Homo sapiens: one gene and its partner. The protein of the gene in region 1 purifies or fractionates together with the protein of each later gene. This does not show direct contact. Each region holds a gene or a part of one and is shown on either strand. Other genes may lie near its edges.

Region 1 (3,500 bases):
TTGTAATACATGCTAAAATTTTGCAAATTAAAAAGCCCAGTGCCGGTAATATCATGAGGAAATAGACACACTCCTGTATTGATGAGAGTGTGTAAATGAGCTCACTGCTTTTGGGAAGTCATTTGACATTATGTATTTTTCACATGCTGTAAAATGTTCATATGCATTGACACACTATATACCCGACAAGTTGATCTAAAGAAATAATCCAAAATAAAAGAAAAAGTTATATCCAAGATATTCATTGTGTGGTTATTTCTAATAGCCAAAAACTGTAAGCCATTTAAGCATCTCCCAGTGCTGATAATTCCACTTACTTCAGCCAGTAAGATGTCTCACGCCGTTCAGCACCCCCTGAAGAGAGGCTCAGCTGCACACAGTGAGGGTGCTTGCCATCTGGGTAGCACTTTGCAACTTACGAAGCACTCTCAGTAGTTCTTAAGCTTCTGGTGATTAGAGTGAAGAAATTATACCAGAATCTTAGAATGAATAACTAGAAAGGAGCTCAACAATTTGAACTGGTTTAAATAATGATTGCTTTTTGCCTATCTTCTGCTAAGTTCCCCTTTTCTTCTAAGTGTCAGTAATGACGGGATAATATTGTGGTGGCCTTTGACATGACTCTCACTTGTGGTCTATATATTGACAGAGAATATCTGTTAAAGTTCTCATTGATTCTCAGTATTTTTTGAGGATGGGTATTTGACAAAAGCTAAGCAGTCTCTTCCAGTAAAATGCTTGCGCAGATGTACAGTTTCGGGTCGTTCAGGGATAGCCCGAAATCCAAGGTTTATGCACATGGGACAGAGTGGTCTCCATTGACCAAAGCCCCCTTCAAAGTGTTCTTCCCCTAGGCCGGGTGCAGTGGCTCATGCCTGTAATCCCAGCACTTTGAGAGGCCGAGGTGGGTGGAGCACCTGAGGTCGGGAGTTCGAGACCAGCGTGACCAACATGGAGAAACCCCCATCTCTACTAAAAATACAAAATTAGCCAGGTGTGGTGGCACATGCCTCTAATCCCAGCTACTCAGGAGGCTGAGGCAGGGGAATCGCTTGAATTCGGGAGGCAGAGGTTGCGGTGAGCCAAGATCGTGCCATTGCACTCCAGCCTGGGCAACAAGAGCGAAACTCCGTCTGAAAAAAAACAAAAAGTATTCTTCCCCTATTGGCCCGCTCTGCACTCAGATGTCCTGATAAGTGAGCATTTCTAAGCCTCGATTGCTTACTGGAACTATTGTGTGCAAATATGAAAGCTTACATATGCTTAACGTAAAACCATACCTTTGTCACTGGTGAATCACTGGGAGTAAAACTAACACCTATGGAGTAATTGTTCGTTGCTAGGCGCCTGTATGCTCAGATGTCATCACTTTTGGTCTGTGCTCCAGCCCTGTGGGATGGTTGTTATTCGAGGTCAGAAGGGAAGCAGAGACTTGGCTTCAAGAGAGTGAACCTTGAATTCACTGGATGGAGCTTATTTGGTCTGATCAGAGCTTAGAGACTTCACAGTCCCCTATCTGTGTTGACAGGAGCAGAACCCTTCCAGTGTCCCTGTGCAAGCCCAGGCTACCAGTGTTGGGACCCAGCCGCCTGCCGTGTCCGTGGCCAGCTCCCACAACAGCTCCCCCTATCTCAGCAGCCAGCAACAGGCCGCTGTAATGAAGCAGCATCAGTTGCTTTTGGACCAACAGAAACAAAGGGAGCAGCAGCAAAAGCATTTACAGCAACAGCAGTTCCTTCAGAGGCAACAGCACCTTCTCGCGGAACAGGTAAAAAGAAAAGTGGAAGGAAACCACCGCTTCCCACCTTTGCCTGCACCCTGCGTCACTGCTACAGTCACACCTTCTGCTTGTGCGTGTGGATTTGCGCAGACTTGCGTGCCTGTTGTTAGAGTGCTTTGCCTTTTAAAAACATCTTTCCAGGAATGTGGCATTTCTCAGACAGGGGTAGTCTTGTCAGAAGCTGCTTCGTGTCACTTAGTGGAGAGTACTCAAGGCAGACTCGGGGGCTAAAACTGTTTGTGGAAGGGACATTTTCCTATGTTTCAGGTCAGCAGCTTCCAAGCCACTGAGCTCACGTGTCTGTCATTCCACTATGGAGTCAGCTTTGCTGCCACTACAGAGCCTGTTATAAGCCAGAACGTGAAGAGGGAAGTGAAGTCATCCCTGAGGGAAACACAGTTCACTCGCTTGGTTAGCAAGTGTAGTGTGCAGGCACTAAGGGTTACAAGTGAGAGTTCTTTTTTTTTTTTGGAGACAGAGTCTTGCTGTCACCCAGGCTGGACTGCAGTGGTGCGATCTTGGCTCACTGCAGCCTCCACCTCATGGGTTCATGCAATTCTCCTGCCTCAGCCTCCCGAGTAGCTGGGACTACAGGCAAGAACCACCATGCCTGGCTAATTTTTGTGTTTTTAGTAGAGATGGGGTTTCACCACGTTGGCCAGGCTGGTCTTGAGCTCCTGACCTCAAGTGATCCACTCATCTCGGCCTCCCAAAGTGCTGAGATTACAGGCGTGAGCCACCACGCCTGGCCTTAAATTACATCTTTAAGACATAAGAACTGGCTCCAGACAGTGAGGTTCATTGAGGACAATCCCTGCCTCAGTTCTGCCTTTAAGAAAAGCAGCTTTATTGTGATGTAACTCACACAGCATACACTTCACCCACGTAAGTGAACAATTTAGTCATTTTTAGTATATCACAGAGTTGTGCAACCATTACCACAATCCATTTTAGAACATTTTCATTACCCTAAAACAAATCCCATACCCATGAGCAGCCATTCTCCCATCCACCCTGCCTCTCCAGCTCCTGATCTACTTTCTGTCTCTATAATTGTCTGCTCTGGGCTGGGCGCAGTGGCTCACTCCTATAATCCCAGCACTTTGGGAGGCCGAGGTGGGCGGATCACGAGGTCAGGAGATCAAGACCATCCTGGCTAACACAGTGAAACCCCGTCTCTACTAAAAATACAAAAAATTAGCCAAGTGTGGTGACGGGCGCCTGTAGTCCCAGCTACTCGGGAGGCCGAGGCAGGAGAATGGCGTGAACCTGGGAGGGGAGCTTGCAGTGAGCAGAGATCGCGCCACTGCACTCCAGCCTGGGCGACAGAGCAAGACTCCATCTCAAAAAAAAAAAATTGTCTGTTCTGGACATTTTATATTTATGTTATGTCATTTTCAATCATGTGCTAGGTAACAGCAATTGATTCCTCTTGATAATAATATTCCATTGTATGGACATGTTACATTTTATTCATTCGTCTGTTCATGAACATTTGGGTTTCTTGTTTGGGCTGTTAATGAGTATTGCTGCTATGAACATTCATGTACAAGTTTTCATATAGACATCTGTTTTCATTTTTCTTGGGTAGATACCTGGGAGTGGAATTGCTGGATCACATGGTAATTTTTATGTTTAACCTTTGGAGGAACTGTCAGACTGTTTCCCACAGGCTGTCTCATTTTACATTCCCACCAGCGGTGTATGAGGGTGCTGATTT
Region 2 (3,500 bases), on another chromosome or scaffold:
ACTAGGGAGGCCAGTGGGAGGAAGGGGCGTTTCTTGACCTTCAGCAGTTGAGACTCAGCCTCCAGGTAGTTGTAGAAGGCACATGCCGTGTTAGTCCATGGATCAGCATTTATTAGCCACTAGCTATTTTCTCAGCCCTGGCCTGTGTGCTGTGGGGTTTCAGAATCAGATCCTTGTTGGAGCACTCCCTCTCCTCCACACACTGGCTTCAACACCGGATGTGGCTGAGAGCAAGGCAGTGTCAACTGAGGGGTGACCCATGCAGCCCAGTCTGAGTATGGTATGGATTGAGAAAGACAAACATGCAGGTGTGGCTAGGTTGGTTTTGTTTTTTTCATTTTAATTTTTAGTGGAATTTATTTGTATTTTGTGTGTTTTTATTAGTTTACATTCCCCTATTATATTTGATTGCTTGGCTTGTGTGTCATTGTGAAATCAGGATTTGAAGTATAATAATCCTTCTGTCTCTACTAAATATTACAAACAGAGTTCAATAAAACTCTTAGTAGATCTCTTTCTTAATAGATCAAAGACTCTTTTTTCCTTTTTAGCTCCTTTCAATTTTGAGTAATACATATCTAACACAAATAATGCTAATGCTTGTCAAATCCAGGCAGGAATACACCTTTCCTGTCTTTAATGCTTGTAAACAATTGCTAGACATGCAGAGGGAGGCCAAAGTCATTACACAGCTGAAGAGCAACATAACAACATGTCTAGTTCTGTCTGGAGATAAAAGGGGTTGCTTATTTACTAGAGATTTTACTTGATGTAGTATCAGGCTATGCATAATTTATGATGAAAAGCCTTTCTCCTGTTTTATTTTGCTTTTGTCTTCTAAGACCAAATGAATAGTGACTTTGGGCTTATAGATATTAATGAGTATGTTTTACATTCCTGTGAGGTTTAAGGCTCATGATAACCCCTGCGGTTTGTCTTGATTAATGGAACCCTTTAAGTCCTTCACTATCAAAGAGGAGGTTAGAATGACTTGAAGTAGGGAGGATTTCTTTTTTTTTTTTTTCCAGTTCACCTTCCACTTCTAATGCCAGTGCCACCTAGCATGTGGTAGGTGTTCCTACATAATTCTGAAAGGAGTGAGGGAGAGAGGGAGAGAGGAAGGGAGGGAGGAAAGAAGGAAAGAAGGAAGGAAGGAAGGGAGGGAGGGAGGGAGGAAGGGAGGAATAAGTGGACAAAATGGGCTCTTATGGAAAGTATATTACTCCTTTGAATCCTCTGGTGTAGTTTGCACTAGAGTTCGTTACCCAAAGTACACCCCTAGATTTGGAGATGTCTCCTCTAGTGATCTTTTAAGTTATTCTTGCAGGATGTCCCTCTTATCTAGTGTTATACTTAATACATGACTTCATCACCCCCAGTATTCTGTGAATTTCCTTCCAGAAGACACAGCTATGTCTTAGTCATCATTGTCACTGCCACAGTACTTAGTAGAACACTTACATATTTGTGAATGTGGGTGGGAAGAGTCAGGCGCCACTTCCCCATCTCAGCCTCTCTAGGCCCTGCCCTCAAAGGCCAAAGATCTCCTGTGACCGCCCTGAACTCTTGACTCCCATGCTGTTGCAGAGCTCAAGCTTGAGGAAATGAAGCCACAAAAAGCTGCTTGCTTGTTCTTAAAGAGGACAGTTGGAATTCCAAGCCAGGCATTGCTGAAGGTTCTAATAATTCTTGTTAGATCATGAAACAACTAGACAAATTGGAATAGATTGAAATAGTTTTAAACTAACTTGAAGGCATATGAGCTACAGGACCAGCTGCCTTCCCGATGACCCAAGAGATGTTCCTTTGCAAATGTCATGGTCTGTGTTGATGCAACCATGTGAACAGAAACTCCTTCAAGGCAGGATGTTCTGTTTTATTAACTATCTCAGGTACTTAAAATAGAGCCTCAGCTCGTGGTGGCATGCTTCAGTGTTTCATGATGGGATCAGGGAATGCATACTTGTGCTAGTGTTGCCTCTGCCTTATCCCCAGCCTTCTAGTGAAGGAGGATCAGATCCACACATCGAAGGATGTGGTCACTTGTTAGGATATATAATTATTCTTAAGACACATTTATCTTTAAGAGACACACCAATAATTAAGACATTATTGAAGCTACCTTTGGACAACATCTACCAAGTCTCTTTCAGTAGCAACAGATGAGTCACAGAGAGGGAGAATCAATCATAATATACATAATTATTCTCTAATGCTTAAAAAGTAGTAAAACTTCACATCTGTTCAGGAGATAAATGCAAAGTTTGCTTCTTCATCTCAAGGGACACTCCATTTTTAACATCTTTTCTGAGTTTCATTCTAATGTCAGCCAGTGGAGAAATGGTTTTCATGATATGGATACCGTTACTTTGTTCATTTTTAATCTTTTTTTTTTTTCTTTCATAGTGGAAAGGTGAAATCCAGGAATTTTGTCCAAATACCAAAATGCTCTTGGTCGGCTGCAAGTCTGATCTGCGGACAGATGTTAGTACATTAGTAGAGCTCTCCAATCACAGGCAGACGCCAGTGTCCTATGACCAGGTATGTATGTTGCCCATGTGCAAAACTGGATTTTAGAAAGAGTGAAAGAAATGGACTATCACTCATAATAAATAAAATAAAAAGTAGCTGCTTTTCTAAAGGCTCACCCAGTGGTCAGTTGTGAAATTTAAAATGCTGTCATTTATTAGTGTAATTACATGATATTCGGGTACATAAACAGTTGATATGCTAACCTTGTATATTTCTGCACCTCCCAGTAGGTTTAAAGTTAAATAGGTTTAAGAGAGAATGTGGTCAAAATCAGTAATACTCTTTAAGAGGGGTAATCTGATTTTACAGTCGGCAGTACAATAATAAGGCTGTTGCCAGTAAAGTGGAACACTCCATAACACCATCTTTCAGAGAGTCTTCATTTCTGTAAGCATTTCCCCCAAGTATTTAGAAATGAGAATCAGTTTCAAAAGCTCATTCTCATAAAACCTACAACCAGATTCTAAAGAGAGTTCATGTTGAAATACCAAAATTTTATTAAGAATCATCATTTTAAATACCGCAGTCTTCTTAGTCTTCCATTTCTCATTAGCAAAAAATTTGGTATTTTAAATAAGTAGTTTTGGTTAATGTGCACATGCTTATTGTTGTGTACGTTGGTGGTATGGTTCACACTTAGAAATTACATATGTTGTGTTTCATAAAGTAACAGATGTTACAATAGTATTATTCCTTTCCTCAACGCATTTCGGCCCTAAGTAAGACACAATCACATACATTTCAAAATCGATTTTAAATTTCATTCATTGCCCCTGTTTTTGGTACAACCTAGTCACTAGTCTTGAATGCCATTTACCCTCAAGAAAAGAGAAATGAAGTGCACCATGAGGCGCTGGAACAGGTTCTCAAGGCCACATCGCCACGGCCAGAGCTGTGTGGAAAATGCAGAGTTTATGTTCATGACCTTCAGCTAACTTACTTCACTAGTAAGCTTCTCTGCGCCATTC

The links.
Region 2: the proteins of MAML1 (region 1) and RND3 purify together in Homo sapiens (affinity purification with western blotting; one study listed by BioGRID). This does not show direct contact.

The regions. Positions count from the first base shown.
Region 1 is NC_000005.10:179,767,322-179,770,821, forward strand, and holds part of MAML1 (mastermind-like protein 1), read left to right. Parts: intron 1-1,528; coding exon 1,529-1,768; intron 1,769-3,500. UniProt on the Homo sapiens protein: Acts as a transcriptional coactivator for NOTCH proteins. Has been shown to amplify NOTCH-induced transcription of HES1. Enhances phosphorylation and proteolytic turnover of the NOTCH intracellular domain in the nucleus through interaction with CDK8.
Region 2 is NC_000002.12:150,470,668-150,474,167, reverse strand, and holds part of RND3 (rho-related GTP-binding protein RhoE precursor), read left to right. Parts: intron 1-2,406; coding exon 2,407-2,541; intron 2,542-3,500. UniProt on the Homo sapiens protein: Binds GTP but lacks intrinsic GTPase activity and is resistant to Rho-specific GTPase-activating proteins.